Linked DNA regions of Homo sapiens: region 1 is linked to region 2. The links come from fine-mapping of genetic effects on gene expression. A gene starts in region 2. The other region holds a variant in brackets. All regions are shown on one strand. Distances are between the middles of the regions. Region 1 has its middle 21 kb from the start of MEIS3. Region 2 holds the start of C5AR1 (complement C5a receptor 1).

Evidence for each region. PIP is the estimated chance that this variant, and not a neighbour inherited with it, causes the effect. A credible set is the group of variants that fine-mapping cannot tell apart.
Region 1: its variant is the best candidate, but not a certain one, in a credible set for the expression of C5AR1 in whole blood (TOPMed, PIP 0.82).

Annotation. Positions count from the first base shown.
Region 1 is chr19:47,396,809-47,401,197 of GRCh38, forward strand. No RefSeq gene overlaps it. Among named protein-coding and RNA genes, the nearest start is that of MEIS3, 21 kb to the right of the region's middle. RefSeq lists an enhancer at 1,350-2,017. The variant A/G (reference allele first, on the strand shown) is at 1,822.
Region 2 is chr19:47,307,809-47,312,197 of GRCh38, forward strand. It overlaps C5AR1 (complement C5a receptor 1), which reads left to right and starts at 2,053. Exons shown (of 2, transcript NM_001736.4): 1 at 2,053-2,090. The coding sequence starts at 2,088.

The DNA of each region.
Region 1 (4,389 bases), 89 kb after region 2:
TTTCTGCTCCCCGGCTCCTTCAGCTGCACTCACTCTTAAGTCCCACAATTACCATTGTTCCTGGCCCGGACTTCAATCTGGCCTCCCACATTATTCCTGATACCACACCTGACCCCCATGACTGTATCTCTCTGATCCACCTGATATTCACCCCATTTCCCCATATTTCCTTCTTTCCTGTTCCTCACTCTGATCACGCTTGATTTACTGATGGCAGTTCCACCAGGCCTAATCGCCACACACCAGCAAAGGCAGGCTATGCTATAGTACAAGCCACTAGCCCGCCTCTTAGAACCTCTCATTTTCTTTCCATCGTGGAAATCTGTCCTCAAGGAAATCACTTCTCAGTGTTCCATCTGCTGTTCTACTACTCCTCAGGGATTATTCAGGCCCCCTCCCTTCCCTACACATCAAGCTCAGGGATTTGCCCCCACCCAGGACTGGCAAATTAGCTTTACTCAACATGCCCCGAGTCAGGAAACCAAAATACCTCTTAGTCTAGGCAGACACTTTCACTGGATAGGTACAGGCCTTTTCTACAAGGTCTGAGAAGGCCACCGCAGTCATTTCTTCCCTTCTGTCAGACATAATTCCTCAGTTTAGCCTTCCCACCTCTATACAGTCTGATAACAGACCAGCCTTTATTAGTCAAATCAGCCAAGCAGTTTTTCAGGCTCTTAGTATTCAGTGAAACCTTTATATCCCTTACGGTCCTCCGTCTTCAGGAAAAGTAGAACAGACTAAAGGTCTTTTAAAAACACACCTCACCAAGCTCAGCCGCCAACTTAAAAAGGACTGGACAATACTTTTACCTCTTTCGCTTCTCAGAATGCTGCAGGGTACAGCCTATTTGAGCTCCTGTATGGACAATCCTTTTTATTAGGCCCCAGTCTCATTCCAGACACCGGACCAACTTAGACTGTGCCCCCAAAAAACTTGTCATCCCTACTATCTTCTGTCTAGTCATACTCCTATTCTCCGTTCTCAACTACTCATACGTGCCCTGCTCTTGTTCACACTGCCGGTTTACACTGTTTCTCCAAGCCATCACAGCTGATATCTCCTCGTGCTATCCCCAAACTGCCACTCTTAACTCCTGAAGTAAACAAATAATCTTTGCTGGCAGGACTATGCTGAATCTCCTTAGGCACTCTCTAATCAGATGTCCTGAGTCGTCCCAATTCTTAGACATTTTATACCTGTTTTTCTCCTTCTCTTATTCCATTTAGTTTTTCAATTCATACAAAACTGTACCCAGGCCATCACCAATAATTCTAAATGACAAATGTTTCTTCTAACAACCCCACAATATCACCCCTTACCACAAAATCTTCCTTCAGCTTAATCTCTCCCACTCTAGGTTCCCACGCCGCCCCTAATCCCGCTTGAAGCAGCCCCGAGAAATCGCCCATTCTCTCTCCATACCACCCCCCAAAAAAATTTTCGCCGCCCCAACACTTCAACACTATTTTGTTTTATTTTTCTTATTAATATAAGAAGGCATGAATGTCAGGCCTCTGAGCCCAAGCCAAGCCATCGCATCCCCTGTGACTTGCACGTATACGCCCAGGTGGCCTGAAGTAACTGAAGAATCACAAAACAAGTGAATATGCCCTACCCGGCCTTAACTGATGACATTCCACCACAAAAGAAGTGAAAATAGCCTGTTCCTGCCTTAACTGATGTCACTGTCTTGTGAAATTCCTTCTCCTGGCTCATCCTGGCTCAAAAGCTCCCCCACTGAGTACCTTGTGACCCCCCACTCCTGCCCACCAGAGAACAACCCCCCTTTTTCCTTTACCTACCCAAATCCTGTAAAAC[A/G]GCCCCGCCCTTATCTCCCTTCACTGACTCTCTTTTTGGACTCAGCCCTCCTGCCCCCAGGTGAAATAAACAGCTTTATTGCTCACACAAAGCCTGTTTGGTGGTCTCTTCACACGGACGCGCATGAAAAGTCTCATCGTCACAGTCAGGAACCTACACAGAGACACACAACCTATACCAAGGCACGTGTGACGGACACCGCCACTCAGCGACAGACACACACACCACATTCAGCAACAGGACACGGGCGGTGCCTCCAGCCACACCGACATCCCTCAACCACTGCCCTCGACCACCACATTCCAAGTCCACAGGCCCAGAGGACACACAGGGGTCAGACACACACCAACTGCAGCCCCCGAGCCCCGCCTGCCTATCCCCTGGGTCCTCACCCCACGACCCAGGATGCCCCTGAACCAGGGGCCCCTCCTGCTCTGAGATGCCAACCTACCATACACGCAGGTCCAGTGGCTGCTTCCTCCTCTCAGGAAGTGGGGGAGATATTTTTAGTTACAATTAACCTCCCACCCAATTTCCCTTCTCCCCAGGCACATCCAATTGGTTTAATTAGAGATGATTAAGTTAATGAGAGGCATTTCCAGATTCTGGGAAAAGGGGGAGGAGGGGAAGAGGAGAGCTGTCCCCTCCCCAACTTCCCAGTGTACCAGCCGCTGGGACCCCTTCCCAGCACCAGGCAGGGGATACACTAAGCAACTGCCTCCCCTCTCAGCCGACCTCAAAGTCTTGGCCTGGCCCTGCCCCTCCCCCATATTCCTTCCCCCACCTGCCATCAAGGGAGGGTGATTGTTTGAAGTCCTTCCTGCTGTCCACCCATCACCCATCCCACCTGAGTCCCGGGGAGTTTTGGGAGAGAGAAACTCTCATCATAGTCACGAAAACAATATCAGGCCAGGTGCGGTAGCTCACGCCAGTATTCCCAGCATCTTGGGAGGCCGAGGCGGCTGGACGGCTTGAACCCAGGAGTTCAAGACCAGCCTGGGAACACCATGAAAAGCCATCTCTACCAACAAATATAAATAATTAGCCAGGCATGGTGGTTTGTGCCTGTAGTCTCGGCTGCTGAGGAGGCTAAGGAAGGAGGATTGCTGGAGTGTTGGAGTTTGAGGCTGCAATGAGCTGTGATTACAGAGGGAGACCCTATCTCAAAAACAAAAGCAATTTAAAAAATTAAAAATCAGGCCAGGCACGGTGGCTCACATCTGTAATCCCAGCACTTTGGGAGGCCGAGGCAGGTGGATCACTTGAGGTCAGGAGTTCGAGACCAGCCTGGCCAACACAGCAAAACCCCGTCTCCACTAAAAATTACAAAAATTAGCCAGGCCTGGTGGTGCATGCCTGTAGTCCAAGCTACTTGGGAGGCTGAGGCAGCAGAATTGCTTGAACCTGGAAGGAGGAGGTTGTGGTGAGCTGAAATCACACCCCTGCATTCCAGCCTGGGCGACAGAGTGAGACTCTTGTCTCAAAAAAATTAAATAAATAAATAAATAAAAATTAGAATTTCAGAGAATTCTATTTTAAGAAAAAGAGGCTGGGGCCGGGCGTGGCAGCTCACGCCTGTAATCCCAGCACTTTGGGAGGCCGAGGCGGCGGATCACCTGAGGTCAGGAGTTCGAGACTAGCCTGGCCAACATGGCGAAACCCCATCTCTACAAAAGTACAAAAATTAGCCGGGCATGATGGTGGGTGTCTGTAATTCCAGCTACTCGGGAGGCTGATGTGGAAGAATCACTTGAACCTGGGAGGTGGAGGTTGCAATGAGCTGAGATCACACCATTGCACTCCAGCCTGGGTGAGAGAGACAGTGAGACTCCATCTCAAAAAAAAAAAAAGAAAAGAGAGGCTGGAAGCACAGTGGTTAGTGTCCAGGCCCTGGAGCCAGGCTGCCTGGGTTCAAATGGAGCCCAGCCTCACAATCTCCAGCTGTGTGACCTTGGATGAGCCACTTCACCTCTCTGGTCCTGCTTCCTCACCTGGGAAATGGGGACCGTGATGGCACCCACCTCCTGGGGCTGCCATAGGGTTTAACAGATTCCCAGGTATACGGCTCCTAGAACAGAGCCTGGGACACAGCACTTACTGAAGGGCTCCATAAGGTCATAAAAGTGGCAGCCCATGCTCTCATCCTGTGCCTGTTCTGCTTTTTGTGACACTCATCCCTTTCTTCCTTTTTTGAGATGGAGTCTCGCTCTGTCACCCAGGCTGGAGTGCAGTGGCATGATCTCAGCTCACTGCAACCTCCACCTTTTGGGTTCAAGGGATTCTCCTGCTTCAGTTTGCCAAGTAGCTGGGACTACAGGCGCCCGCCACCATGCCCGGCTAATTTTTATATTTCAGTAGAGATGGGGTTTCACCATGTTGCCCAGGCTGTGTCCTCAAGTGATTTGCCTCCCAAAATGCTGGGATCACAGGCGTGAGCCACCACTCCTGGCCTATCCTAAGATTTTGTTCATTCACTCGTCTGCTCAGCGGATATTTTCTTTCTTTTTTTCGGGGGGCAGAGGGGGACGGAATCTCGCTCTGTTGTCCAGGCTGGAGTGCAGTGGTATG
Region 2 (4,389 bases):
GAGGTGAGTGGCAGGTGAGTAAGTGAAGCTTCATCTGTATTTATAGCCACGCCCCTTCGCTCATATTACCGCCTGATCTGTCAGATCAGGGGCGGAATTACATTCTCATAAGAGCGTGAACCCAGGCCGGGCGCAGTGGCTCAAGCCTGTAATCCCAGCATTTTGGGAGGCTGAGGCGGGTGGATCACGAGGTCAGGAGTTCGAGATCAGCCTGGCCAAGATGGTGAAACCACGTCTCTACTAAAAATACAAAAATTAGCCGGGTGCAGTGGTAGGCACCTGTAGTCCCAGCTACTCGGGAGGCTGAGGCAGGAGAATCGCTTGAACCTGGGAGGCGGAGGTTGCAGTGTGCCGAGATCGTGCCACTGCACTCTAGCCTGGGTGAGAGAGTGAGACTCCATCTCAAAAAAAAAAAAAAAAAAAAAAAGAGCATGAACCCTGTTGTGAACAGCGCATGTGAGGGATCTGGGTTGCAAGCTCCTTATGAGAATCTAATGCCTGATGATCTGTCACTGTATCCCATCACCCCCAGATAGGACCATCTCGTTACAGGAAAACAAGCTCAGGGATTCCACTGATTCTACATTATGTTGAATTGTATAATTATTTCATTATATATTACAATGTAACAATAATAGATGGAGATGGTTGTGGCTTGTGTAGTTGGGGGACAGGGTAGCTCCATTTTCTATTGCCAACTTTATAACCCTAGAAGGATGATTTTTTTCTTTTCTTTTCTTTTTCTTTTCTTTTTTTTTTTTTTGAGATTGAGTCTTGGTGTTGTCAGCCTGGGCTGGAGTGCAATGGTGCAATCTCTGCTCACTGCAACCTCCGCCTCCTGGGTTCCAGCAATTCTCCTGCCTCAGCCTTCTGAGTAGCTGAGATTACAGGCACCCACCACCACGCCTGGCTAATTTTTGTATTTTTAGTAGAGATGGGGTTTCACCATATTGGCCAGGCTGGTGACGATGGTTTTTTTTTTTTGAGACAGAGTCTTGCTTTGTTGCCCAGGCTGGAGTGCAGTGGCGCAATCTTGGCTCACTGCAACCTCTGCCTCCCAGGTTTAAGCAATTCTCCTGCCTCAGCTTCCCAAGTAGCTGGGATTACAGGCACCTGCCACCACACCTGGGTAATTTTTGTATTTTTAGTAGAGACAGGGTTTCACCATGTTGGCCAGACTCGTCTTGAACTCCTGACCTCAAGTGATTCATTTGCCTCAGCCTCCCAAAGTGCTGGGATTATAGGTGTGAGCCATTGCACCTGGCCCTAGAAGGAAGATTTAACAGTAAAATATACTTAAATGCTGGGCTACCTCCGCAGACTAGCTCAGCCTCTTTGGGTCTCAAATCAGCCTGGCCGGGAGGCTGAGTGGAGGTTACAGTCTCTGCTTTCTTGAATCCCAAGGGAGGGGTTTAAGCCAACTGCATTCCTGAGCTTTTGCCCAGAAGGCTGGCGTCTTAGGAGGAAAGAGATAGATGGCTCCAGGCCGGGCGCAGTGGCTCACACTTGTAATTCTAGCACTTTGGGAGGTTGAGGTGGGTGATTGCCTGAGCTCAGGAGTTTGAGTCCAGCCTGGCCAACATGGCGAAACCCCGTCTTTACTAAAAATACAAAAAATTAGCCGGGGGTGGTGACACACACGTGTAATCCCAGCTACTCGGGAGGCTGAGGCAGGAGAAGTGCTTGAACCCAGGAGGCAGAGGTTACAGAGAGCCGAGATTGCACCACTCCACTGCAGCCTGGGCGACACAGCAAGACTCTATCAAAAAAAAAAAAAAAAAAATGAGAGAGAAGAGATGGCCCCAAATAGGGAAACCAAGGCCAGGAGAGGGGCCGAGCCTGCACAGGAGCTTCCTCGGTTTTCCGAGCGCCGGCCCCCCTTCTCTGCCTGGGAGGAGGTGGTTAGAGTCCCCTGGGTGTGTGCCCCGCAGAGGGAGCTCTGGCCTCAGTGCCCAGTGTGCAGACCAATGAGAGCCCCAGAGAGAAAGACGGTCATTTCCTCCCTGCATCTTCCCTTGGGGCTTTAAAAACCACAGCCCTTGGGCAGGAGGGACCTTCGATCCTCGGGGAGCCCAGGAGACCAGAACATGGTGAGTCTCGAAGGGGAATGGGAGCAGGAAACTTTGTCCTGGGTCCCTCCCATCTTTGCTCCAGTGGGTCCTTCTCTCTCCCCAACTCTCGCCGTCAACTCTGTCTGTCTCTCCCTTTCCTTCTCTCTCCCTGTCTTCCACCTCCCACCTTCCCTCTCTCCTGCATCCCAGGCTCTCACACTCCAGGGCTGGGATGTGGCCATGGGAATAAGATTGTCAAGATTGTGGGAGCAACAGCAACCTCGTGGGGCTGGGGCCCGAGAAGATTCCCCAGGGGAGGGGACCCTTGAGTTGGGTCTAGTAAGGTGACTAAGAATTCCACAAGCAGCCGAGCGCAGTGGGTCACACCTGTGATCCCAGCACATTGGGGATTGTGCCAAGGCGGGAGGATTGCTTGAGGCCAGGAGTTCAAGACCAGCCTGGCCAACATAGTGAGACCCTGTCTGTATTTTTTTTTTTATTTAAAGAATTCCACAAGTGAAGAAATCTAGAACAGGCCTTCCAGGCAGTGGGAATGGCAGAGAAAATGTTGGGAGGCTGGAAAGAACCAGTTTGGAGGAATGGTCAAGTTACTCAGATGCTCTTGCAGATAGATGTTCTTTTCTTTTTCGACTTGGGGTCTTGCACTGTTGCCCAGGCTGGAGTGCAGTGGCACCATCATAGCTCACTGCAGTCTTGAACTCTTGGGCTCAAGTGATCCTCCCTCTTTAGCCTCCTGAGTATCTGGGACCACAGGCATGCACCACTATGTCCGGCTAATTTTTAAAATTTTTATTCTTGTAGAGATGGGTTCTTGCTATGTTGTCAGGGCTGGTCTCAAATTCCTGGCCTCAAGCCATCCTCCCACCTTGGTCTCCCAAAGCTCTGGGATTACTGGCATGAGGCCATTATGCCTGGTCGTTTGAGATGTTCTGCATGACAGAGATGGGGAAACTGAGGCCCAGGCAGGAGCAGAGATGGATGGGGACCCTCCATGGTTGGTGGCAGAAGCAGGTTATGCCATGGATTCTGTGAGTGTCAGAAGGAATGCACCCCAGGCTAAATGAGGGTCCCTGTCATCCCTGCGTCTGGAGGCCTGGGCACTGAGCCAGCAGAGCTGCGATTCAGCACCTGCTGTAACACAGGCATTGCCTTGCTTCATCTGTGTCAAAGAGGAAACGGAAGATGGTTTGGATGGACCAGGGAGGGGTCTGATGTTGCTTCATTCCTGCATTCCACCCTTGAGATCCGACTTGGGCAAACGGGACTCTCTGATTCTTCTTCTTCTTTTTTTTTTTCTTTCCAAAACATTTTCCAAAGTACCAAATGATACTTGGTAAAAACTCATTCTCGGCCAGGCGCGGTGGCTCATGCGTGTAATCCCAGCACTTTGGGAGACTGAGGCGGGCGGATCACAAGGTCAGGAGATTGAGACCATCCTGGCCAACATGGTGAAACTCCGTCTCTACCAAAACTACAAAAATTAGCTGGGCATATAAGCGGGCGCCTGTAGTCCCAGCACTTGAGAGGCTGAGGCACGACAATCGCTTGAACCCATGAGGCAGAGGTTGCAGTGAGCCGAGATTGCTCTACTGCACTCCAGCCTGGCAACAGGGCCATCTCAAAAAACAAACATAGAAAAAAAAAAACTCATTCTCCCTGCCTACCCCAGAGCCTCTGACTCCTTTTCTTTCCTTTTATTTTGAGACAGAGTTTCACTCTTGTCGCCCAGGCTGGAGTGCAATGGCACGATCTTGGCTCACCACAACCTCTGCCTCGCGGCTTCAAGCAATTCTCCTGCCTCAGCCTCCCGACTAGGTGGGATTACAGGCATGCGCCACCACGCCTGGCTAATTTTTTGTCTTTTTAGTAGAGACGGAGTTTCACCATGTTGGCCAGGCTGGTCTTGAACTCCTGACCTCACGTGATCCACCCACATTGGTCTCCCAAAGTGCTGGGATTACAGGTATGAGCCACCCTACCTGGCCCTCTGACTCCTTTTCATTGCCTCCTACCCTACCTGGGGCAACCATGGGATGCCAGTTTGTGGTGGATCCTTCCAGAAACAGTTTACAGATGCCTGAGAGCACAGATGCTTAGGGAACAAAGTAAGGACTAGTGTGATGCGGGGAACCCCAAAACCGAGCTCAGCTTCTGTCTCTACTATGAAATAGTTGCGGAGATCTGTCCTCTCCGTGCTTCTGTCTCCTTATCTTTTTGTTTTTTGAGACAGTGTCTTGCTCTGTTGCCCAGGCTAGAGTGCAGTGGTGTGATCTCAGCTCACTGTAACCTCCACCTCCTGGGTTCAAGTGATTCTCCT